Linked DNA regions of Homo sapiens: regions 2, 3, 4, 5 and 6 are each linked to region 1. The links come from fine-mapping of genetic effects on gene expression. A gene starts in region 1. Each other region holds a variant in brackets. All regions are shown on one strand. Distances are from middle to middle.

Region 1 (4,000 bases):
TGAATGTCATGCTAGAGTGGTCAGTCTCTCTTCAGCAGACAGTGAGGAGCCACTAGGTTGCTATGCAGGGAAGAGACAAGATCAAGGTTGGCTTGAGAAGGATGAGTTTGGCAGCAGAGTTTGGAGGGATTAAGGGGAGGGAGGGAAGCTGGACTGTCATTCAGAGACTCTCCAGTTGTCCAGGGGAAGGTAGTATGGGTTTACACTGGGTCAGATGCACAGGCATAGGACAAGGGCATAAGGAGGAGGACATGGCAGAGCCGGGGCTTTGCCAGACATGCCTACCAAGTGACTGTGATATAGTGAAAGGGGGAGGGAAGAGTGTGAAACTCACCCATCCATCCATCCACCTGTCCATCCATGAGGGGATGGCTGGGGGTAAAAAAGCAAGTGAAGCTGCCAAGGAGTTGCCCATGTACCCCAGGAGGACGAACTCCAAGGATGGAGTTTGGGGGATACCTCTCTTGAAAGCTGAAGAGGTAACAGAGGGAACAGTAAGAAGTGGCAAGACGGGTAGGAGGAGAAGCAGGACCATGGAAACTGGGGCCAGAGCCCCAAAAGATCTACTGGACACCAATGTCAGCAGGTGCTGACGGTGCAGGAGGATGACAGCTAACTAGGAGCAGGTTGTTGCCCAGGGTGACATCAGGTGGCTCCAGGGACATCACGACACAGCTGGTGGTGTGGAGGCGTAGAGGGCAGCTAACATGGCATTAAGGTGGATGATGAGAAGGTGGAGGTTGATGACATCTTCCCTTCAGGCACAGAGGTGGGGTAGGAGGGAGGGGAGGGGAGGAGGAAGGCAGCCTGAGTCAGAGCCAGGGAAGGAAAGAATTGTCAGGATTGGGGGACTTGAGTCTGGCTGTGGTGGAGAGGAAGAAGTCCCAGCAAAGGAGAGACTAGACACGCAGAGGTGGGGGGTGTGGGGAACTGATTTAGAAAAGCCCAGAAAGGAGAGTCATCCCAAAGGGAAATATCGCATCTGCCCACTGTTAGCTCATTAACAGACCAGGGGAAAGGATTGGTGCCTCCAAGGTGAGAGGCGTAGGAGGAGGGGTGGGGAACCTAACGGGTCATCCCTGACCCTGTAGGACCAGACTATCATCAGGTATGTAGGGGGGGCGGGAGAGGAGGGAAGGACACATCTCCAGCATAACATATAACAGCCTCAAGGTGAGTTTCTGATTTAGAACCCTTGACCATCTCCAGAAACAGGAAGATAAAGTGTAGCTGTGAGAGCTGAGCCTGGGAGAATTGCTCCTATCTCCAAGGCTGCATCCCCAGTTGCTGCCTAAGTCCTTCCCACCCACACTGAAGGCCTGGCCCACAGCAACAGTGCACCTCGCCTTGCACCGGCCTGGGAGAGCCCTCTTGCAGGCTTTGCTGTTTTATAGCTGACTGTGTGACTCCTGGTCTCCCCACGCTGAGCTGTCCTCTGGGGTCAGGGCCCTCTGTGGAAGTTCACAATGCACTGGGAAGTGAACACCAAAGGCAACCAGAGGCTTCTGCAGAAAAAGAACTGCGAAACGTTGGACAGGAAGCAAATCCGGTTCCCTGTGGACCCTGGAGCAAGTGCCCACAGGTTATCTGAACAGTATTCATTCTTTCGACGGACATGTACTATGCCTCCCGCAGGCCAGGCACTGTTCTGTGAACTGTGGATTCTGTAGTGAACAAAATAGACAAGAATCCGAAAATGGTGACCCCATTTTAATGAGGGAGAGACCCCACGATAAACAAAATCGATTAGTAAATACCAACCCATGCTAGAGAGTGAAGAGCTCTGGAGGAGAGGCACGGGTGCGCCCCTGGAGTTGCTCTAAACAGGGTAGGCAGGGTGCTCTTGTCACAGAGAAGATGAACGAAGGCTCGTTTGATCATTTAAAGCGGATCCAGTCCTGGGTGGGATGTAAGGGCACGAGGCCTCCCCAGCTCCTTCGCTGGGCACCCTATGGGGGGACAGGGTGAGTTGGGCGGGCCGCTGCGGTTCTCCGAGAGCACCACGAGGGGGAGCCCGGACCCCTCCTAGCGCCTTCCGAGCCCTCCCGCACAGCCTTGCAAGCAAAAGTTTTTCTTAAACTAACAATGCCAGTGTAAGGAGGTGCTCGCGCCTGATTGGCCGGGGGAATTTTGCAGGTTTGATTCCTTGATTGGACAGGAGGTGTTAGGGGTGGGGAGAGAGCTGATGGTGGGGGATCCCGCTCCCTCCCGCGTCAGTCTGGCCGGCTCCGTCCTCCCGTAGGCTCCGCTGTAGCTAGCAATGTGACACCAGGACGCACTCGCTCTCGCGCGCTCTCCCAGGCTCGTTCTCCCTCGCCCTCTCTCTCTCACACACGCACGCACACACCCACCTCTCCCATAAACACACACACACACATGCACACCCACACCCACGCGCGCCCGCACCGCCCCACGCGCACACACTCCTGCCCACGCCCACGCAGCGCTCCGGGAAGTCCGGTCCGGGCGAGAGCGCGAAAGGATACCGAGAAGCCACCCGCGGAGAGCGCAGCGGCGCCCTGGGACGCGGCGCTCTCCCGGCGCTGCTGCCTCGGCTTGGTCTCGGCCTGCGGGCCGTCGGCCGGCGATGGCCCTGGATTATCTACTACTGCTCCTCCTGGCATCCGCAGTGGCTGCGATGGAAGGTAACGTACCCTCCACGGAGCAAGTTGGCTGCTGGTGCCGGCCGCCTTGGGACTGCTGTGCTCCGCGGTTCGCGGGGTTCCTCTGGCTGCTTTGCGGTGCAGGCATCCCGGGACCCGAGGGCAAGGAGGTTTGGGAGCCTCGGCCGCTGCCGAGCGCGGGGCTTGGGCGGCACCCACCAGAGCGCCCCCGGCTGGCTCTTAGCGCCCGAAACTGGCTCGCGAGTCCCCCGGCTTCCTCGCCCCGGCACTCCCTGGTAGCCTCGGTCTCCCGCAGCCCCCGCTCGGAGAGCTCGGAGCCCGCTGCATTGCGGTGCATGCTCCTTAGCTCTGGGGCAGAGCCAGAGCTGGGCGTTGGGGAGAAAGGGGTGCCTCTGGCCATCCGGCTCCTGGAGTACTGGCGCCCGTCTGCTCCCAGGCACGGATACGCTTCTGAGCAGCCGCGCGCCACCTCCTTTTCTCCAGCTCGCAGTCCACGGGCTAGTGGACTCTGCTTGGCGTGCAAGCACTGCGCGCGGGGGCCGGAGAAGCTCTGCCGTGGTATCCCGCAAGTGGCCGCCGAAGGAGAGGGGTGGAGTTCATTGGCCGTACCCTTGGGGACCAGTCTGGTGGTCCGGGCGCCTGCGGGACTGCAGGTTTCCAGGGTCAGTCGGGGAGAGGTGGAAACCCTTTTCGCCTCTTGAGCCTTGGAACAGGAGTGGGCTGGGGTGAGTGGTCGGTCCTACCTAAAGTCTCCCAGCCTCTCCACCACCCCGGAGAGGATACTCGGCGGCCGGGAGTCGTCGGGCAGCGTCACTCTCTGCCAGCTCAGACTTGGCGGTGCCTCCGGCTTGGTGGCTGGGAAAGCGCGCTCCAAAGACACCGTGCCCGGCGCAGCGGGGAGCCTGGGCGCTCGGTAGCGCTCGCGAATCCCTGTGGGAAATCCCGGCCCAGCTCCCCGCCTCCCGCCCCTTCCCCCGCCTCTGTTCTTCGCAGCCTAGCAGCGGCCGCGGCAGCCTCCTGGGAACACAGCTCCGCGGGAGAGCGGAGTTGGAGTTGTCGGGAGAAAACCAACTCTAGGGGTGATGCGCTGCCGCAGTCCGGCTAGCAGCCCCACTTTCCGGTGTCCTGCTCCGGATGGAACTCCTCTGGGGGACTCCAAGCCGGGGAGGAGCAGCTCTTGGCGACCGCGCAGCGTTCCCATCTGGGAGCTCGCTCCGCTTGTTACTCGTTCCTCGCGAAACTGTGACCGGTTGCCCAGTGGAAACTCCCCCAAACACGATGGTTTGGTGCCCCCCGCCATTCCGGAAAGCTCTGCCCTTCTGGAAGTGAAGCTGGAGGGGCATTCCGGGCCCTGAGGCGCGGCTAAGATTCCCTTC
Region 2 (5,048 bases), 200 kb before region 1:
CAACAGAGCCAGAGCCAGACCCTGTCCCCCCAAAAAATAAAATAAAATAAAACCAGACTGAGATACTAAAATGCTCTATTAGCTATCTACGGCTGTGTAACAAATTACCCCCAGATTTAGCAGCTTCAAATAATAAGTTTTCTGTGACCTTACAATTTTTCAGGGTCAGGAATTTAGGAATGGCTAAAGTGGGTGGTTTTGGCTCTGGGTCTTTCATGAGGTTCCAGTCAAGAAGCTCACCAGGGCTGCAAAATCCTCACAGGAGCTGCTTCCAAGATAGCTCACTCACATGGCTGTTGGCAGGAGGACTCACTCAGTTCCTCAAAATGTGGGCCTCTCCAGAGGCTGCTCGAGCATCTTTACAACTAGCAGCTGGCTTTGCTGAGAGCAAGTGATCTGGAGAGAATAAGGAGGAGGCTATAATGCCTTTTATATCCTAGTTTTGAGTGTCACACACCATCATTTCTGCGACATTCTATTTGTCAGAAGAGAGTCACTAAGTATGGCCTGCACATAAAAGGATGGGAATTAGGCTCTTCCTTTTGAATGTAGGAGCACCAAAGAATTCATGGACATTTTTTCAAACAACCACAAATGCCATCTGCAAACTGGTGTGTGTGTGTGTGTGTGTGTGTGTGTGTGTGTGTGTGTGTGTGTATGGAGGAACTGACTGACTGGCTTCCCAAAGATGGGCAAATGGGGTGCTGGTCTTTTCACTGGGGTGGTGGTTACAGATGGTACCTGTAGGCCTTTTTTCTTAGGTTGATCTGTTTTCTCAGTGATACCCTCCAGTTTTTGCTTTGAGGACAAAAGTCAGCCAGCCAGGTTTGGGGAGTTAAATAACATCAGGGTTTGAGGTGGTCTCACCATTCAGTATGCAGATTGTATTTTTGAAAACAATTCATTAATTTTTTTAACTATTAATTTTCTTCATGTGGTTTCGTATGTTGATTTACAGCTCTCTCGAGTGGAAGGTTTTCTTTTTCTTTTCATCTGCTCTTTTGGCTCCCTTCCGTGTCTGAGTATATTGCAGTTGCTCCTACCTAGTCCCCGGAACCCTCAGACTAGAGCCAGGCTTTGTACTGGTGATTCCGGGCTCCCACTACATGGTTGTCCCATCATATAATAGACAACTCACTGAGCCCAGTGGGTGGATTGGCTCAGCTGCCCTAATTTAAGGCAGTTTTGTATAGGTAAGGCCTTAACATAGGTGTCCAGTAATGGACAGCTGCCTCATGGAGTGGAGAGCTCCTGGTCCCTGGAAGGATTCTAGGAAAGACTGGGTGATTGCGTCTTGGATATGGGATTTCTGCATTGAAATCAGTGATTGCCACAATTTTATGAGGGGCTTGAGACTTTTGGATTCCTTAGGGAACAATACATCAGTGTCATCCTCATTATGCTGATGATGACTGATGCATCGTGATGGTAGCCAATAATTACTGAGTACTTACTATGTGCCCGGGACTTTTCTAGTCATTGTACCATATGTTAGCTCATTTAATCCCCATAAGAAGTGTACACAGTAGGTGCTATGAGTATCCCTGTTTTACTGATGAGGAAACAAAAACAGGGAGGTTCAGTAACTTGCACAAATCAGCTGGGAGCTGGCAGAACTGGGGTTAGGAATCAGGCGGTCAGCTCCAGGTGTGTGCTCTTAGCTGGCACACTCTCCTACCTGCTGTCAAACAGGGGCTGAGCCACAGGCTTCCCCAGGCTCATGACTGCCAACGCTGAGGAGGAGGAGGGGTCCACAGGGCTTCTCCAAGTGAAATCAATGTGTATAGAGGAAAACTCGAGGCTTCAATCACACATTAATGGCTCCTGACCACACAAGACAGATTTCAGTCTAACAGGGGACCAGTGGCTAAGAGGCCATCTTTCCAGAGGAAGCCCATTCACTTCTTTTAAAGATAGACTTTAACACTCTTGTTGAGCTTTAAAAATGTCAAGTGAAGCTTTCACTGCCAGAGTGGATGCCCTCCCACAATCAGGTTAACGTGTTCTCTCCACTGTGTTGCTCCTGGGAGATGGAGAAGGGGATCTGATACTCATGAAATGAATGCCAAAAGGTTCATGGTACCCACACTTGCCCAGTCCCTAGGGTGGGGCTATCCCAAAGGGCATAGGAGGAGGGGACAGCCTTCAAGTGCTGCCAGTATCTTGGCTTCATTTAACTTTTTAAATAGAATAAAATGGTGGATGTTAATTTCCAGATCTCCTTGGTGTTCACATACATTCAAATACAAATATAAATATGAGCAAAGTGTTCACTAGGAAATCTGTAATCCCACCGTCATTTTGTTCTAAATAAACGCTTCCTCATTTTTCCTCACCACCATCCTTTACCCAGATGGGAGCTGCCAGGGGCTCCCCACTCCTAATATCTGCACTTCGTCAGTCATTCAGCCCAGCTGTTCTTGTGTACTCACAGTTGTGGCTGCCCCTCTGCCCTCATGCCACCAGCCTCTCCATAGCTGCCCCTGCCACCATAAAGGGGGACGTCACTGCCTTGGTCCCTGCACAGCCAGGGCGAAATGATGGCTGATTCGTTGTGTCACAGAGGCAGTCAGCCATTCCCCCTGATAGAAACAAAGCAATCTCGGCACATGCTCAGGGCGGGCGGATTCCCCCGAGAAGAACGGCACTCCTCCCATTGATTGGTTGCCCATGCACTGATTGTTTCCCAGAGGCAAACACCATGAGCACTCCCAGCCAGGTGGCAATTTTTCTCCTCTTGTAAATATACATTTCCCACAGGGGCAAAGGAGTACACTGCTGTGCATATGCTTTCCTAGTTGAGCAAAAGAAGGAAATGACTATTTAGGATGTTGTAACTCAACAGCTGTTTTGGTCAACAGCCATGTAAACAACCCAGAGATCTATCATTTTGTTTTTGAAAT[G/T]ACAAGGCAATGTTCACTTCAAAAATTTACTGATCACTTATTCTAAATGCAAGGCACTGTTTAATCATGGAGATAAAAGAGCAAACACACTCAGCCTAGGCTCCTTCTCCCTAGAGTTGATATGCCTGTGTGCATTTGTGTCCTCTGAGCTGGGTGGCATGCATGTTGCGTGGAATCCTCCTGGAGCTCAGGTGAGGTCAGGAGGCCCCCAGCACATCCTGGGACCTTTGGTTTGAAAGCTGACTGGTTGTCAGTCCATGGGCTAGCTTAATGGGAAGCCAGTGCTCCCCACTGGTCTGAATAGCCTCTGATATGGTTTGGCTGTGTCCCCAACCAAATGTCATCTTGAATTGTAGTTTCCATAATCTCCACGTGTCATGGGAGGGACCAAGTGGGAGGTAATTTAATCATGGGGGTGGTTACTCTCATGCTGTTCTCGTGATAGTGAGTGAGTTCTCACAAGATCTGATGATTTTATAAGGGGTGTTTCCCCCTTTTGCTCAGCACTTTTCCTTGCTGCCGCCATGAGAAGAAGTATGTGTTTTCTTCCCCTTCTGACATGATTGTTAAGTTTCCTGAGGCCTCCCCAGCCATGCTGAACTGTGAGTCAATTAAATCTTTTTCCTTTATAAATTACCCAGTCTCGGGTATGTCTTTATTAGCAGTGTGAGAACGGACTAAACAGTCTCCTTCATTATTTTGGTCTGAGCCCTGATTTAGCTACCTTTAAGCTGGGATTGGCAAATACATGGCACACCTCACCCTTCAATCCATTGTCTATGGATCACTAGCTAGTCATGACACTCTTTCCTAGTGAACCCAGTTGTGGCCTCAGAATCTGTCTAAACCCAGTACCCCTGGCAATGATGACTAAACATCTAGAGTGCTGGTTTAATTGGAGAGAGGGAATCTCTTGGTGGGCCCTGTCTAGGTGGCCTTCTCATTCTCAATCCTTCATGGCTTGGCTTTGCCACTGGATACACTGGATACCACTGGATACCACTTCGTGGTGCTTTGTCTTTTTTACACTTCATCCTGCAGGGGCTCCTCTTCAGAGGATCAGCCTTGAGGACAACTGTGCTCAAAGAAACCATGAGTTTGAGTGTTCCCTGGAGCATTACTTTCCAATATATCAACGGTCTTCAAGACAGCCCCACATACTCAGGCTTTGCTGTAGAAGATGTTAATGCCTTTAGATCCTAAATAGCTATATTTGCCATTTTGCAGCTCTTTCCCGAGAAAACAGGTTCTTCTGGGGCTTTAGAAGCTTTCCCGTGGAAAGGTTTGTTTGTTGGTCTCTGGGTGGGTGGGTGGGAATGGGATCAGCAGGTGCCCTCAGCTAAATTTTTATGTCACTCTGGGTTAAATAGAAGCATCAAGCTTAGGTTATATAATCTTCAAACAGGGCCATGGGGAAAATTTGGAGCGGGAACAAATCTAGATAAAGGAAAGAAAATTCCATTAAAACTGTTCACAGCCAAAGAATGCCTGACAACCCTCTGCTACCCACCTTTACAGGCAGGGTGGCCATCCTTCTCTAGTCAAGACCAAGTCCTACTTTCAGGACTTGTTCTATCTTCCAAGTAGTCAGTATGTGTCCTCTTTTAGATGCTGGACTTGGTAAAGGGCCTCTTCCTTTGAAGACCACTGTTAGCTGCATCCTCAGCCTCCTCCAGGGTGGTTACTTCACCCCACATTCCCAGCCCTCCCCAGGATGTGGCCCTCCTCTGAGAGAATCTTGGGTTCCCCTCCTCAATGTCCAGTATGTGGCATACAGAGTTGGGCAAAAACACAAGGGCTAGACCTGGTGAAATGGGAACATGCTTTGACAAATGCTCAGTGGATGGTTATGGACTGCTAGGCAGTAGTACTTTCCTGGCCCTGTCTTCCTAGTCTGTCTTAGTTTTCCCAGTGAAACACTTGCCAAGCGTTTACCAAACACCTACTGTGTGCCGAGGAGCAGAACCAAAGCATATATATTCAAGGAATTCACATCCTAGGGGCAGAACCTCCAAGTACTTCCTGAATCCCAGAATCTTGTAGAAGGTTCTGGGTTAACAGATGAGCAACAAAGTGTGACATGAACATGGAAGATAGGCAGATAATTCCCCATGGCTTGGGCAGTGGGAGGACTAGGAAGGTCTG
Region 3 (4,000 bases), 370 kb after region 1:
CAAGAAGGCTGTTTCTTTTACATTTGGCAGTTAAGTTTTGCAAACCCAAGAGGGGCTGGTTGTAAGAGAGTTCTGGTAAGTGGCCAAATTTGGGAGTATTTGTCTTACGACTGAGGTTCACACATGGGTACGGATTATGTTCACTGGGGCAGCAGGCCTGTCTGCAGAGCGAAGGTAGTCAGAAGGTTGATCGATGATAGGGTCATTGGGGCAGGGAGGACCTGTGGAATCCTGCCCAGAGTCAATGGCCACACTTTGGGCTGGTAACCTCCACATAGGGCAGACCCACTATGGCCCTGGGCTGCTCTTAGCTACACTGTTCTGATTTTTGACGTAGCTGCCTAATTTTTAAAAAATCATTCAAGTTTCATATTACATTATGAAGTTTTTAATTTATAAAGACATTGTTAAGGATGCTTCATTGGGGTTCCCTGTGTATTTTTCTATCGCCAACTTTATGTTTTAAATACATATATTACAGAAAGTCTCAGCTGAGGGCAACTGAAAATTTTCCTTCAGTCTTTAAAATTGACTTCCGTCTTTAAAATTCTAGAGAATGGGAGGCTTCAAGAACCAATATCCTTGTTCTTAGAAATCTTTCTCCTCCAACATGGTTGAAGGACAGTTCTCAAACATTGGGGAACATTAGAATCACCTGGACTGTTTGTTAAATATGCAGATACCCTGCTCTTCACCCAGAGGATCTGATTCAGTAGATCTGAGGAGGGGTCTGGAAACAGTCATGTTTAACAGTCGGGCTCAGGTAATTCTGATAGCTCATGGGAAACCTCACTTTAAGAAGTATTGTCAGTGGGCATGGTGGCTCACACCTCTAATCCCAGCACTTTGGGAGGCCGAGACAGGTGGATCACTTGAGGTTAGGAGTTCAAGACCAGCCTGGCCAACATGGTAAAACCCCATCTCTACTAAAAATACAAAAAGTAGCCGGGTGTGGTGGCATGTGCCTGTAATCCCAGCTACTCGGGAGGCTGAGACATTAGAATTGCTTGAACTCGGGAGGCGGAGGTTACAGTGAGCCAAGATTGTGCCACTGCACTCCACCCTGGGTGACAGAGCAAGACTGTCTCAAAAAAAAAAAAAAAAAAAAAAAGAAGTATTGTCATTAGGGTTGCTAGATAAAAAATAAGATGAACAGTTAAATTTGAATTTCAGACAAACAAAAATTATGTTTTAGTGTAAGTATCTCCCAAGCAATATTTGAGGCATACTTATACTAAAACCTTTTTCATTATTTATCAGAAATTCAAATGTGATTGGCAGTCCTACATTCGTATTTGCTATAGCTGGCAACTCTAATTGTAATAGAACATAAATAGCTTGACTTCTCTATGCCTAGGTCCTGAACATTAGGTAATAGTTCTTTAACACCAGTGAAAGCATAACCAGGACAATACCAATACTAGCCAGCTGGCCCAAATTATTTGTATAGATTAAAGAAAAGAGATTTGGTATTTAGGACACCTATGATAGAGCAGACAGGGTGAAATGTGCTTCATATGATTTGATTTTTTTCAACAGACAGGAAGTGTGAGGGTCAGAAGGACTAAATCGTGTGTCCAGTATCACAAAGCTTGCACATGGTAACGCCAGGGTTTAGATGAGTTCTGTCTGCCTCTATGACC[C/T]GTAGGCTTCCCATTCCACTGCATAATTCAGCATGGTTCTAACATTTGGCAGAAGCCTTGATCATTTTCTTCTTGAGCGGGAACTCAGAGTGCTGGGCCATTCATTTCTCAGGCATTTCTTTGTCCTCCACAGTGCCTGGAGGTAGTGCTGGCTGACTGCGGATACTCTTTAAGTATCTGCTCAATGAATCTATTGACTCTGTGCCATTTCATAACTTCATGCTTTAGAAGATATTTCAGCAGTGGTTTTCATTTAGATAAGTCCCCTTCATTGGAATGTCCTTAACATGGCTGACAGTTCTTCGAGAGACCTTCCAATTGAGGGAATGTAGATTGGAAATCATCTCTGCTCCAGGAATGTCATCAGCTATAGTTCCCAGATTCTGTCACGGCTGTTTTGTTTTCATTGTCCTTTGTTTTTGGTTGTTTTTGTTTATTTATAACTTAAAAATTGCTGTTTGTTTTGGTTAGACTTACAACTCTGACACATAGAAACTATCCTCTACATATATGTATATTTAGATCATGTTTTTGGTATTGTGCACTGAGTATCAGCTGTATGCAAAAGGCACATGGGGAGGATTCTAATGCCTCTTTCTCACCTAGATGATTACAAGTCAGAGCTGAGGGAGCAGCTGCCCCTGATTGCTGGCTCGGCAGCGGCCGGGGTCGTGTTCGTTGTGTCCTTGGTGGCCATCTCTATCGTCTGTAGCAGGTAGGTCCTCCACTCTCACTTGCTCTCCTTGGACCCAGGAAGCCCCTCTCCATGTGCCGTTTCCCAGGCTGCGTGGATCAGATAGGGTGTGACCATTCACGACCACAATCATCACTCCATCTCAATCCAAGAGCAGCCTAGAATTCTTTAGATATTTATTTAGCTGGGAAAAAATTCATATGAGAGCTGGGCAAGGCTATGAGTAAACAGCATCCATCCTCAAACCTCATTTTAACGAAGACTTTTAGCCCCCTCTTACACACAATGGCTTTTCAGAGTGACAGTTGCAAAATTGCATTTGACTCACTGGAGCATCCAGCCTGTGCATAACCCATCCTCCAGTTAAGAGAGCTCAGGCTCTCAGCAGCCAGCAAGAGGGAGGCAGGCTGGCAGGAGAGAAGATGAGGAGGAAAGGGAAACTCTGAGTTCTGCAGAAAAGCTGGCCCCGAAAGCCTTGTGATTTTTTAATACTGCTGCTACTGCCTTCAGTGGTTAGCCCAGATTCTGTCACGCAAAGCCCTGTAGTTGGCTCCCTCCCAAGCAGTTCTGCAATGTAGCTTAAGTGCTGATGGACATCCTCTTCACCTCTGCCCCCATCAGCACTGCCCTCTGAATGGGGTCCCACAGTCCCGCCAGGCTTCTGCAAGACCTTGGCTGGAAAGCAGAACCATCTGCCCACAGGAGTGAGTGGTGGTCAACAAGAGCTCTAACTGCAGCAGGAGGGCTGAAGTGAGAGTTGCCCAGTCCCTAATCCTGGGAGATGCCCCGGGTGAGCCCCTATCTGGCCTGGGGCCTAGATGGAGGTACCTGGAACAGACTGGTGGGTGTGCCCTGTGGCTGAGAGAGCCCCTCTTTTTATCCACAGGAAACGGGCTTATAGCAAAGAGGCTGTGTACAGCGATAAGCTCCAGCATTACAGCACAGGCCGAGGTAAGTAGAAAGCAGAGACCCGGTGTCTGACCCCCACAGGCCACTGAGTCAAGTGGGCTAGTGCTCAGAGCTCTCTTTATAGCCAGACTGGCTGGTCCCAGTGGCAAGTTCTCTCTCAGCCCCCAGTGCCTTGGCCACCTTTCTGCAGGTCCCCAGGGGCAACAGGCTACCCTCCCATCTGCCGTCTACCTGTCATGGGTACTCATTGGATGCCTGGTGGGTAGATTATTGTCTGCACTGATAAGCCCATATAGGACACAAAATGCAGGGAAAAGATTGGGTTTAGCAAGTCAATGAATCCTCAAATCAGACTCAGTGGGAAAAGATGGAGTTCTCTATTAACATCTTCTGCCTTATCTTATCCAATTGAGCAGCTGGGGAATTTGTTAACCAAATTCACAGATAAGCCATAGAACATGAAGGTAGGGAATTAAAAAGATAGCAGAGCCCAAGAGGCCAAAGTGCTGGGATATCTCCCAAGTGTTTTCCTTTAAGCAGTACCTTTAAAAGTTTTTCTCACTCATTATCCTCTCTCTTTTATAAACCTATATTTATAATATTTTTATAACTAAAATTTCTTTTCACCAAGGTGCAACATAAAGTTCCCTGTCACACTCATTTTCTCATCTGTATAATGACAACATTGCAGGATCTGAGAAAGGTCTCTCTAGGTCATTTGGGCCACCTTCCTGCCTCCAGAAAGCAGAATTCT
Region 4 (4,000 bases), 110 kb after region 1:
ATAAATGGATGTCATTAACAGTCCCATTTTCAGATGAAAAAAAATCACTTGATCATGATGACACCAAGTGCTGCTCATGGCAGGATGGGGCTGAGAAGCTGAGTGTGTAGGATTTCCAGCCCAGTCTCCACTGACTCCTCTTCATCTAAAGGAGGAGAGCCTGACCTCCTTTTTCTGACCCTGTCATCTAAAATCCAAGCCCTATCGAATGGCACTGATTCAGCTTCTCTCTGTACTTGGTGGCAGGCCAACCCCCATGCTCCCAACTCCCTGGAGACTCCAGACAAGTGACGGTAGAGTCTGCACGCTAGCAGGTGATACAGGGCTTCGGCACAATCTGTAGTCTGGAAGCAATTTTGTGTTTTCTAGGCACCCATCTGTGAGAGGAGAGCAATGTCTGTACAGGGTCTGTTTGCTTATGGAGGAAACAACTGCTGCTCAGGAGTGGGAATGTCTGCCCTGTCACGTGTGTCATTTCGTTTTCAAGCAGAGGAGTTCCAGGGATCCTCAGGACATGGATCCAGCCTTCAGGGGAGCTCAGCTTTCAGGCCTTGGGAAGCACCTTGACATTTTCCTTCCACATTGGAATGAAGTTTGTGCAGTGCTGGGTGTGCTGTGGACCAGCCTGGAGCTCAGGCCTACCCTGGAACTCTGACTCTAGGCAGTCTTCAGAAGACCTCTGCAGCCTCCACTTGGAGGGCAGGGAGTGGGGGTGGAGGGCACTGTCGGGGAGGCATGGTCTGGAGGATGTCATGTGTCAGTTCTTGATTGTCTCCCAATAGATGAGGAAAACATCCCTACTTATCACTTTCTATTTTCTTATTTTCCCAGTGTGCTGGACTGTGGGGTGGAGGAGGAGACATGGATTCATGGGCTTTTCACACCATTTGAGGGTTGACAGGGCAATTCCCAGGAGTAGTTAGGAACAGAAAAGACACCTTAGACCCCTGATGCATGAAGTTCATCATCATCATCATCTTTACCATCCTTCTCAGCTGCAGGGCTTCAGGGATTGTGGAGTGTTTTTGCTAGCTCTTCTAGGTAGGGAGTGAGATTGGTCCTGAGATTGGCCTGCGATGTTCCTTTACTCTCCTCATTGCACAAAGATTCTACACTGGGCAGCTTGTTGACCCCCCAAAACACCCAGATCTTGCATGCTTCAGTGCCTTCGCCCTGCTGTTTCTTCTGCCTAGAATGACCTTCCATGCTTCTTTGACTAGCACATTCCTACTCAAGCGCTAAGCCTCAACTCAAGCTCCCTCATTTCTCCTTCACTTCCCAAAAGGCAGAATAAATATCTTTCTAAATATAGTGTTTATCACATCCTAAAGTTGATATCTTCCTTATTTTCAACCACTCAAAACACACTCTTAGACTTGAAGCTTCTGTTTTTGTTTGTTTGTTTTGTTTTGTTTTGTTTGTTTTATTTGGAAGAGACAGGGTCTCACTCTGTCACCAGGCTTGACTGCAATGGCATGATCATAGCTCACTGCAGCCTTGAACTCCTGGGCTCAAGCCATCCTCCTGCTTCAGCCTCCCAAATATCTGGGACTACAGGCACATGCTACCATGCCTGGAGGAGCTTCTCCAGGAAAAGGGCTTTCCAGGTGGGGGCACAGCAAGGGTATAACAGAGAGTCATGACTATACCTGGTGAGTTTGCAAGGTAGTAGACTGATGGACCCAGAGATTTGTTCCAGGCTGGGAGTTGTAGGACATGGACTATGGAGGTCATTGTGTCT[A/T]TGGTGATTAAACCACTGTAGGAGAATGGACTTTGGGGCTAGATAAGACTCTGGTTAGAAGCGGGCTCTGGTTGCAGTATATACTGAGGCTTTGGATTCTTGAGCCTTGGTTTCTCCTTCTATAGAAATGTGACAATAGGGCCTGTCTCATAGGCTGCTGGGGAGTCATGGCAGGCAAAGGCCACAGTTGTGCTCAGACATGATGACTGTCATGGAGATTGTTCTGGCTGAGAAGCCATGGCCCTTGGAAGCAGGAATCTTACCTTTTACATCTTTAGGTCTCCTAGTGGTCCCAGCAAAGTGCCTGTGCTTGCTGGCTGCTCATTTTTTATTTTTATTTTTTTTGTAGTAGTAATAGCTGAATAGAGATAACCTAAAAAGGATTTGGAACCAGGAATAAATAGAATAAAATGGTAGTCAAGGAATAAGACTGGTGGTGTGTGGGTAGGGCAGCTTAGAGGGTGGGTGGAGAGGTAGAATCTTGGTCCTGAGAAATCAGGATATTTTAAGTACACATCTAAAATAACATGGACTTCAGGCCTCCAGGATGTCATGACTCCTCTTCCTCCTGCCCTCCTGCCTGGGTTAACGGGGCCCAGTGAGGAGGTAGACCTGGCAGAGAGATGGGAAAAAGCATGTGAGGACATAAGAGCAAGTGTGTGTGGTGTGCATTTGTGTGTGGCCATGGGTGTATGTAGGTGTGAGGAGGACCTGGGTGCATGTGTGTGTGTGAGCACAGGTGTATGTAGGTGTGAGGGGGCATGGGTGTGTACATGGTGTGCATTTGTGTGTTGGTACAGGTGGATGTAGTTGTGAGAGGCACATGGGTGTGTGTTGGAGGGTGTTGTGTGCATACATTGTGTTGGAAGGTCTCAATGGACCAACAGACACATTTATGTCCTCACATAGCATACAGTTGCATGGGGAAGAATGATGTTAATGAAATTGTTAGTTGCAAATGTGGTGACTGGTCTGATGAAAAATTAGGGGACTCTAAGAATTCATACAGTACCTAATTTAATTCACACTTGGGGCTTGGGATGTGGAACTTCTTTTTAAAAAAAAAACTTTTTAAATCTTATTATAATTTTATTGAGCATAGTTTAAATATTTTTACATTAATATGTACATATTTTCTTTCTTTAACATAACCACAATATTATTATCACATCTAAAATAATTAACACTAATTCTTTAGTGTTATCAAATACCCAGTCAGTGTTTAGATTTTCCTGTGTGTCTCATAAAAGTTTTACAGTTGGTTTATTTAAATCAGGATCTAAACAAAATCTACACGTAACACTTGGTTGATTTGTCTCTTAAAAGACTCCTTAGGCTCCTTCGCCCTTCTTATTTTTTCTTATTTTTCATTTAATTTATTTGTTGGATAAACCAGGCTACATGTCCTATAGCATTTCCCAGGGTCTGGGTTTTGCTGATTGTATCCCCATGGTGTTGTTTCCTGGTTCCTTGGTTCCCTGGACATCCTGCAAACTGAGAGTTACACCTGGAGGCTTGGGCAGGTTTGGGCCCAGTTTGGTTTCCCCACAGGCTTCTCACCTGCTGGCTTGGCAGCCACTGGTGGCCCATATGGGAAAGGCATCTCACTGAGTGCAGCCTCTAAGCTACAGCCAGCAGGGCAAGAAGAGTCATCCAGGGGAAAGGAATGGTGGCGTTCAAGGCAAAGGAAGCCATGGGTGCAGCTTGGGCATGAGAGAGGATGGGGGTGGAACTGAGGGCAATTCTGGGGAGCTGTGTGGGTGGCCAGGGAGAACTGCAGGAGGCAGAGACAGAGCAAAGCTGTAGAAATGTGGACTACTCCCTCAGCCTCTGTATCTTCATCTGTCAAGTGAACGCAGTACCTGTAACTACCTCTTAAAGGGGTTGTGGATGTTAAAAGAGTGGATGTGACATATTCAGCACCAGTGACTGGCCAATAGGAAAGGAGCAATACTTGTTATTTGTGATGCTGATGACAGTGACAATGTGGAGGAGGAGGGAAAGGGAGCTTGTACTTTTCTCTGAGATCCATGGGCAGCTATTGAAAGCTTTTGCATAAGGGACAGATATAATCAAATTTGCATTTATAGAAGTCCGACCTGTCTGTGAGATGAAGAGTGAATTTGGGAGGTGCAAGAAAGGGGGCGAGACAGTAGTTAGGGGCTGATGCAGGTGCCTAGGAGAGAGGGGGCTGTGGCTGTATGGGAGCAATGTCAGTGGATATAGAGATAGATGGAATTATTGGGAGATATTCAGAGA
Region 5 (4,000 bases), 410 kb after region 1:
TGAGGACTGGGGACATTAATCAAACACATGCCCAAATGAGTGCATAATTACCAGCTGAAATAAGGGCCGCTATGTTTTGCGAGAGCATGCATAAAACAATAAATAACAAAATTGCCTAACTGTGTCTAGGAGGGCTTGCAGAGGAAGAGATGGTGCTACAGCAGAGACTTAAAGAACAGTCACTGTTTTAGTCAGCCTGGGCTCCCATAGCAAGCTACCACACCCTGGATGGCTTAAACAGCGGTCATTTATTTCTTGTCATCTGTAGGCTTGGGAGTCCAAGATCAAGGTGCTAACTAGGGATGGTTGGATTCTTATTGAGGGCTCTATTCCTGGTTATGTCCTCAGATGCCTTTTGTTGGCATGTGCACAGAAAGAGAGATCTTGCCTCTTCCTCTTTTGAAAGCACATCAATCCCATCTTGGGGACTCCACCTTCATGACATAAACTAACTGCAGTCACCTCCCAGAGGCTCCACCTTCAAATATCACCCAATTGGGGATTATTAGGACTTAAACATATGAATTTGGGGGACACATAAACATTCAATCTACAGCATTCTGCCCCAACTAAATGTGGCAGGTCGGACTTCAGAGGCAGAGAGGCAGCATATACAAAGGCCCTGTGGCAAGAGGGAAGATGGAGTGGAACTGAGAAGGGACCCCTGTTTAGGGCATTTGGAGATTTAGGGAGGAAGCATCCAAGGAGGCCTGTAGCAGTCCATCATGTAGGATCTTCCCCAAACGCTGTGATAGGAGTTGCAGCCTTAGAGCAATGGGAAACCTTTCATGACGTGTGTGTGTGTGTGTGTGTGTGTGTGTGTGTGTGTGTGTGTGTGTGTGTTGTGCACACAGAGAGATGCACACGTGTGGCCCGAAAGTGATGGATTTGAATTTTAGAAAAATAGCCTGGCTTTTCCTTAGCCTTTTCCTTCCAATATCTTTCCTTGCCTTCTTTAGAAATAACTTTCTTGGATTTCTTCCTGTTTTCTTTCACCAAAAAGCCATTAAGCAGACTCAACCAGGGTAGATGTTCTAAACAAGGGAGGCAAGCCCTAGCAGAGATCAGGACCCATGTGTGAATGGGCTGCTGGCTCAGCAAGATTGAGAGACAAGCTATATACAGGGAGATTTAAAAATAAATTTGAAATAATGGAAACTGTGGGAACAGAGGTATAAATATGGAAAGCATAAAAGCTAGAATGAATTGTATGCTGTGGAATCAAAATTGGAGGTATTAGTGTGAACCGGTGGTTTTAAATATATAGAAATGGAGAAATAAATATAGGCTGAGAGTGGCTTTGAAGCAGTAACATCTACATAGCAAGGAGTACAGCTGGCTCTCAGATCTTGGATTCCATATACTCCCCTAAAAGCAACCAGGACTCATTAGAGACATGGCCCCTTCCAAGGCCTGGAGAGGGAAAATGTGAGATGAGACCAACACATCTTTTTTTTGTGCCAGAAAATGAGAAAGTACTCAAAGAATAATGGGAACATACAACAAAAACAACATCCAGCTTGAAGGGCCTCCAAATCTGGATAATTTGAGCCTCACAATATATAATAATAGTAACAAGTTATAATCTACTGAATAAGATGGGGGCTATTGAGTCCACACTAATATGCATATAAATGAACAAATAGAAACAAGAGAAAGCTCTTCCCTGTAGAGGAAAGAATGATGATGTTAGAAACTCACTATTTGGCAACCATCAGATTAATAGCTAATTCAGATAAGAAACATAAATGGATGCTTAAACTTAAGGTGAACATCAGGAGAGAAACAGGATTTTACATATCTTCAAAGTTTCTCCCCCCAAAATATTTATTTATTACAAAGAGGGAGAAAGTAACTTTACAGAGAAGTTTGGCAAATGCCATCTGAATCAAGTGATTAAAGTCAACATCAGCAATAATAGGACAGGTAAATATTCTGTGCAACTTAGAGGATGCAATGAAAAGAACATAATACTTGCAATACTCTGTTCAAAATTTATAACTTGGGTCTCATCATGAGAAAACATCAGACTACCTAAAACTGAGGTACATTCTATTGAATGTGTGGCCTATGCGCTTCAAAAAATGTTAGGGTCGTGAAAGTCAAGGAGACAGAGAAACTGCTCCAGATTGAGGGGCATGATACTGGGTATACCATGTGATCCTTAACAGGACATCTCTAGGACAATTGTTGGGCTGGAATAGGGTGCCTAAGGGAAGAGTGTACAGGCATTCATTGTAGTATTCTTGCAACTTTTATAGATATTTGAAGTTGTCTCAAAATAAAATATATATATTTTTAAATTTACCTTGACTGCAGCATGGAGGATGGGTGGGAGAGGCACTAGTAGAGACAGGAAGATGCATCAGGAGGCTAC[G/A]GGGCAATGGGCCTGGGATGCAGCAAATGAATCCCAGAAGTTCTAGTGGGGTGATGCAGAAGGACTTGACAGCAGATGCCACTTACAGGTGAAAGTGACAGATGGCGGAGGATGACTCCAAGTATCCAGCCTGTGCCTCTGGATGGGTGATGGCTCCATTCTCTGAGAGTGAGGATGCTGGAGAGAAATTGGTTGAAGGAGTAGAAGAGTTGGGAATAGATTGTGGGTTTGGTTCAGAATAGTTATTCTCAAATTCTCAATTCTCAAATTCTCAAATGTTGTTGAGTATCAGATTTACCTGGAGAGTTAATACAGAGCACAGAGGCACAGACTCATTGAAGTAGAATAGTCTGGACCTTTTCATTGTTACTAAAATTTTCCATATGATTTTGATACTTAGAAAATTCTGAGAGACACTTGTTTAAACATTTTGACTTTTATATGTCTATAGGATATCACAGTAGAGCTGCTGAATAGGGAGCTGAATATGTGGGTTTGGGGCATAGAGGAGAAGTCCAAATGAAGATGCACATTTAGGAGTCATCGTTGGCATACAAACAGAAACAAAACAGTGCGTGCAAATGTACTTCATTTGGGAAAGGATAGAATGGGAAAAGAGCCTGGTTCTGGACATGAAGGAGCCCAGTTTGCCAATACAGATGTACATAAGATAGGAACAGTAGCTGTCCAATTGTCCCTTCCTCCTGACAGTCAATTAAGAAATAAGAATTTGCCATAAACCCAACCTCCTCACTTTTGGATGAGGAATCCACAGCCCAGAGTGGTCAAGTGAGTTACTCAAGCCACACAGCGTGCTATTGCAGCGGCAGCTTTGGCCCTTCCATCTCGTTCTCCAGACTCTGAGTCCAATGCTCAGGACACTGTGATTCCCTCTCTGGCCCCACAGTGTGCCAGACTCCCTGCTCAACTTTGGTCATTTGTGATGTTCTAGAAAGCCTGTTTCTCTGGCTTTACTTTTCCCTCTTTTCCTCTCAAAGGCCCAGCAAAGGATTCTCTGTAGAGTCCAAATCAGCCGTCATCTTTGCCACTGGCTCTACTGGCCCTTGGATGAGGCACAGAGACGCGGTGGTATTGCATCCCTCTCCACCCCATGTACAGGCAGAGATGGGCAGACACTTAACTTTTACTTATTCTTGATTTTCAGCTTTACTTCTTTGCATTTACTTTTTTCATAGTTACTCTAGAACTAACATAATAATATGTAACATATGCATATATAATATATACGTCTTAATTTTTCCTAGTCTACTTTGAGTTCATATTGTACCACTTTACATAAAATGTAGAGACCACATAATCATATCATATAGATCCATTTAACCATCCACTCCCACTGCTCTTTATGTTATCATTGTTATATATGTTCCATCTACATACATTTATAGTCCCAAAGACAATGTTACAATTTTTGCTTTAAACAGCCATGTGTATTTTAAAGAAATCAAGAGGAAAATGTTTTACATTGCCTCAAAATAGTTATCATTTCTCTTGTTCTTCCTTTATTCCTGAAGATCCAGGTTTCCCTCTGGCATCATTCCTTCAGTCTGAAGAACTACCTTTAACATTTTTTGTAGTGCAGGTCTCTGGCAATGCATTTCTTAG
Region 6 (5,048 bases), 340 kb before region 1:
ACACATATATGCAGGTGTATCTAGAATTCTTCATTCCTGCCAAGCTTCTGGCTGGTCCCTTCCATAATATTTCATTATCATGGTGGCTGAGTGGTTTTGCACTCATCCAAACACCTCCCACCAGGTCTCTCCTCCAACACTGGTTTTGCACTTGGCATTCCACCACAGCTACAGAATCCCCATTTAAACAGTTCATGTTATATGAGAGAGAAGTGTTTAGGCCTTTTCTCTTCGCAGTGTTATCTCTGACTTCCACGTTAACTCTCTTGCTAAACAGCAGGGGGCTATAGATCAAGTCGGATTCAAAAAACTACACCAAAACTTCTCATTGGTTAAACCAGGGTTTTGCAGAGTTTTATAGCACCTCCACTTATTTTCCCTAGTGATGTTTTTCTTCTCTTACTTTTTGTTAACTGTTTGTGTCAAAAGAGTCATTTGAAATTCATGCTTCCCACCCAGTGAATGAATCTCAGTGCCAATGTCCTTGTCAGGTGGTTGTTCATCCTTGGCTGGGGAGTTCATCTCCTTCTGAAGAAGGCGGTTCCTTTGTTGAACAACTTTAGTTATTAGAAAACTCATCTACCTATTGAATTTATCTTCCAGTAACATTCATTAGCATGATATTTGAGGAGAGTTAGCTTGTAGTCTTAGAGTCTTCTCTTCCCCAGGATAACATCACCTCAGCTGTTCTCCCTGGTGAACTTTCCAGATCCTCAGAAGCCCTCAGATACACTTATATCCATTAGGATATTCTCATTAAGAAATGACTGAAAATCCAAATCAAATTGGTTTAAGTCAACAGGGGAACTTAAGGGCTCATCTAAATGAAAAGTCCATGCGCCAGGACAGTCAAAGTTCAGAGGCTGGTTCTCCCAGTCTTTGGCTCAGCCTTCCTTTGTGTTGGGTTCATTCTAGCCTCCCACTTGGTTGTCCCCAGAGCACGAGGCTCACATCAGAGTTTAAACGCGATGCTCTGATTGGCCAGTCCAGACTACATTCCCGTGGTAGAGCAGGGGGAAGGGAACAACTGCTTCAGGAACAGAGTGGTACTGAGCATGAAGGAGAGGGGGTCCTCTGGAGGAGAAATGGGGTATAGCTAGCTGGAGATAAAAGTGAATAGGGGATAAAACAACAGCACTTCAACTGAGCCACAGATTTAAAAGTAACCAATATTTCCCACTTCGGCAGCTTGGGTACAATTAAGATCATATTTCTTCATGCAGTATTCCAATGGAAGACTTCAAGTCTCCAATCCCAACTCATCTTTTCCTCCTTCCTGGGGTCTACCCTGCTGGGATAAACCAAGAAGTGTCCAGGCTGTTAACTTGTGTTTACTGTGTTTCATCTTTGGTAGAAACACTGCATGGTGTTTGGGGTGAAAGCAGAACTCAGACCTATTCCAGAAGCCAGAGATCAAGCATCACATCTGATGCTTCTGAGATGTATGAAGTTTCCATGCTGTTGCTGTTGCTGCTTCTGTTGCCACTCTCACCACAGAAGGGTGTCACACCACTGGTCACATTTAAAAACTTGACCAGCTGAGACTGAGCCTTCTGTTCAGGGGGCTGCCTATGGCAGCGGCAGGGGTTCCTCTGGTTAGGATGGAGGTGGATTTTCCACTCCTCTCCTTCCCCACGTCCTGGTGCAATTCAGCCAATGGTGTCCTTAACAAAGTACGGCCATATCTGGCTTCCAAGCATGTGCATAAACAAGTCTTTAATGTTTGAAGGCTTTTGAGGATGATGAAGAATTACTACTCTTGCACCCTGTTTAGTGATTCATTAATGTTCCAAATTTATCAAATAATTAGCATTCCATTAACTTTAAATATTTCTCAACATGTTCACACAATATTCACACAATTATAAATTGAAATGTCTTTATTTGATTAAAAGCTTCCAATTGATTGCAAATTATTAATCTTCTAGATATTTATCATATTCTAAAATCCATTATATCAGATTTTCTTAAAAGCTTCAAATACTTTTAAAAACAACCCAAATATCACAGTGATTATAACACTAATTATTAAACTTATGTTGAAACCATTTATTAAAGTGCTAGTACCTAGATTTATTTATTTTATCTGCTTGTATCTTTATTCTTTCTTTTATTCTAATTTCTCATTTAAGTTCTTTTCCTAGGATTTCCACCCCCAAAGGAAAAAAACAATCGCTCATTTAGAGTAGCCAAGATTGTGGGATGTGAGCTGTAAATTCTTGAGTAGGACCAGGAACTTGTACCTTAAATCCCAGTCTCCGGGGGTCAGGCTGAGGCTGAAGCCCTTTGATAATTTAGCTTAATTTTTAGTTCCCTGGAATTGGTGCAGATTTTAATTTTCGGAAGGGAGATGTCTTTCCAGAAATGATTGACCCCTAAGGTTTGCACACTGGCTTCCTGACCCTCTGCCCTGCCACTGTGGTTCTTGGGCTTGGTTAGGATCCCTGCAGGTGTAACTTTATGAGTAGCTTGAAGTCGAGTCGGGCCAGTCAGCATCATCTTCGGGACATTTGATTCCTTTGTTATCTTGGAACCCACACTTGACTTCTTTGTAACTGGCTACTGTGAGTGACCACCCTGGCTGGCCAATTTTGGGCCTCCTCCCACGAGGCTCTGTCTGTGGCCTCTGGTACCAGTCAGCGGGTCTTGTTCTTGGAACAGCAACTTACTTTTCTGGCTTTCCTTGGCTTAGTCACAATTTCTGTTTTTT[T/A]AAAAAATTTACACTTGAAGAACTTATTTTTACTTTATAAATATCTGTTTAACAGAAGAAATAAAATAACCCTATGTATGTGTACATAGGTGTGTGGATATGTGTATGTGTGTATATAGGTATGCACACAAAGTCTCTCTCTTTCATGTCTTCTAAAATTACTTTAAAAATAATCTATTGTATCATATTCATTGCATATTCATTGTTTTTTTTTTTATTTTAACCAGGTCATTTGTAGTCTCAATATTAACTTTTTCTTGAGTATTATTGTCCTCTGGCTTTTCATAAGCCCGAACTGTTTGAACCAGTTACATTTATGATTCCCCATTTGATGCTCAGTGTCCCAGCTCAGCCTGTGGGAGGCCCTACAAGCCAGCTCCTTGTTCTATCAGCACTGCCTCAAATATCCCAGAAAACATCCTTACCTTCTGGCAACAACTAGAGGATGTTCCAAACCCTCCCCGATTTTTCCTTATTTTTAGGGACCAAAACATAGGCACTCTGAATGCACAGGGGAGTCGGGGGAGAACAAAATCATGTCTGTTGTTTCATTTTTGGAAAAAGAAATTAATTTTTTTTTTAAGGAATGTGTTTGTCCTGGCTTTCTCAGTGTAACATGTCACGGTACCTGCTTTTCATGGTTGGTGTTCTCTTTCATAGTCTGGTCTCAGGAGCCACTCCAGCTTTTCCTACCTTCACAAGATATAGCTCCTTCGATTCACTCTGCCAGCCTCTCCACCACCTAGAAAGGCTGGGCCAGGACGTGCTCCAGCACCTCTTATACCATAAACCTCTAACCCTTTTCCTCTTTGGTCATTTAACTCAGCACAGCATCCCTGCCAGAGGTCCCATCCCTACCTACCTACACTTGTGGCAGTTTTGTTTTGGGAAGTTCACTATATCTCTCAGTTCTGCTTCATTAGAAACCCGCCTCATAGAAATATCATCCTTTATTTATTGTTAGAAAAACAATGTATTTATTGAAGGTAGTTTAGGAAAGTCATTAAGTTACAGTGAAAAAAATAAGAATTAGGCTGGGTGTGGTGGCTCACGTATGTAATCCTAACACTTTGGGAGGCTGAGGCAGGCAAATTGCTTTGGGCTCACAAGTTCGAGACCAGCATGGGCAACATGGCAAAACCCCATCTCTTCTAAAAATACAAAAAAATTAGCCAGCTGTGGTGGCGCACCCCGTGAGGTGGGAGGATGGTTTGAGCTTGGGAGGTGGAGGTGGCAGTGAGCCATGATCGCGACACTGCACTCTAGCCTAGGTGATGGAGCCAGACCCTGTCTCAAAAAAAAAAAAAAAAAAAATACTACTACTACTACTAAGAAGAATTAACTACGTCTCTAGCTTCTCTTTGCAGACTGCCTGAAACAAAGGAGGTTTTTAGGAAATTCAGCTTCATACCTGGTGAGATGTTATTTATTTCACAGTGTTAACAGAGGTTACAACTGGGGAATGGCCATGGAAGTGAGAGGAGAAACTTTAATTTTTACTTTTTATACTCATGCATGATTGGAATTTCTAATCCAACACTTACTGCCTTTGTAATCATACATACAATTTGAAGTGCTTCAAATAATAAAAAATAAGTCACCCATGGCTAACATTGCTAATACTTTTTGCACCTCCTTCTAGTCTTTTTCTCTCTCAGGCATATATTTTTATTAGCAACCTTTGAACCGTAATCCATATTTAATTTTCCCCCCTACTTTTTATTTTAATTTAACATGATGTAGCAAGCACTTTCTCAGGTTATCAATTATTCTTGGGAAACATAGGACTTACAATAGTTGCCTGATATTCTATCATGAGGATTTATTAGGTTATCCTCCTACTGTTGGCAAACAATTGTTTTTAATTTGGGAAGTACATGAAAAATCACCCATTTAAGATTCTCACTTTCCAGATGAGAAAACTGCAGTCCAGTGAAGCTAGTCATTTGTCCAAGCATGGCCAGTCGATCCGAGACTTGCTGGGATGGGATCTGGCACTCCTGAAGCCTTGGCCTCAGCCTCCTGAGCCTCCGCAGGGCGCTTCTGGAACCTAACTGTAGGGCACTGCCTACATTCTTTCTAAATTACATTTTGCAATTTGGGACACATTATTCCTGCCTGTCAAGATCATTTTTTATCTTCTGTCATAGAACCATTAGCTAATGAGGGACAGTATAGCCAACATCAGAAATTACAGCTTTTTTCTCTATCAAGATGTGCTTCCTAAATCATCTCTATGCCAAGGAAGGGGAAATACTGTCATAGCTCTGATCAGATAATTCCAATAGTCACCAGCAATTACAGGGAAGGGTGCTAATTAGCAGATCTCAGGCTGTGT

Alleles and levels. Alleles are on the strand shown, and positions count from the first base shown. SD is a standard deviation of normalised expression in the study named. Not every link is listed here.
For the expression in skeletal muscle of the gene that starts at base 2,216 in region 1, allele A in region 5 goes with a lower level than allele G (small effect, 0.36 SD a copy in FUSION).

What was found. PIP is the estimated chance that this variant, and not a neighbour inherited with it, causes the effect.
Region 2: its variant is the best candidate, but not a certain one, in a credible set for the expression of EPHB1 in whole blood (TOPMed, PIP 0.59).
Region 3: its variant is the best candidate, but not a certain one, in a credible set for the expression of EPHB1 in testis (GTEx, PIP 0.68).
Region 4: its variant is the best candidate, but not a certain one, in a credible set for the expression of EPHB1 in prefrontal cortex (ROSMAP, PIP 0.59).
Region 5: its variant is the best candidate, but not a certain one, in a credible set for the expression of EPHB1 in skeletal muscle (FUSION, PIP 0.82).
Region 6: its variant is the best candidate, but not a certain one, in a credible set for the expression of EPHB1 in whole blood (TOPMed, PIP 0.68).

The regions. Positions count from the first base shown.
Region 1 is chr3:134,793,045-134,797,044 of GRCh38, forward strand. It overlaps EPHB1 (EPH receptor B1), which reads left to right and starts at 2,216. Exons shown (of 16, transcript NM_004441.5): 1 at 2,216-2,645. The coding sequence starts at 2,588. RefSeq lists enhancers at 1,732-1,941, 2,003-2,297, 2,342-2,391, 2,402-2,591.
Region 2 is chr3:134,591,859-134,596,906 of GRCh38, forward strand. It overlaps a transcript of CEP63 not described here. Among named protein-coding and RNA genes, the nearest start is that of KY, 57 kb to the right of the region's middle. The variant G/T (reference allele first, on the strand shown) is at 2,904.
Region 3 is chr3:135,163,719-135,167,718 of GRCh38, forward strand. It overlaps EPHB1 (EPH receptor B1), which reads left to right. Exons shown (of 16, transcript NM_004441.5): 8 at 2,250-2,358; 9 at 3,224-3,288. Among named protein-coding and RNA genes, the nearest start is that of EPHB1, 370 kb to the left of the region's middle. The variant C/T (reference allele first, on the strand shown) is at 1,644.
Region 4 is chr3:134,898,261-134,902,260 of GRCh38, forward strand. All of the region lies in intron 1 of EPHB1 (EPH receptor B1), which reads left to right. Among named protein-coding and RNA genes, the nearest start is that of EPHB1, 110 kb to the left of the region's middle. The variant A/T (reference allele first, on the strand shown) is at 1,742.
Region 5 is chr3:135,207,498-135,211,497 of GRCh38, forward strand. All of the region lies in intron 12 of EPHB1 (EPH receptor B1), which reads left to right. Among named protein-coding and RNA genes, the nearest start is that of EPHB1, 410 kb to the left of the region's middle. The variant G/A (reference allele first, on the strand shown) is at 2,378.
Region 6 is chr3:134,452,822-134,457,869 of GRCh38, forward strand. No RefSeq gene overlaps it. Among named protein-coding and RNA genes, the nearest start is that of MIR4788, 18 kb to the left of the region's middle. The variant T/A (reference allele first, on the strand shown) is at 2,711.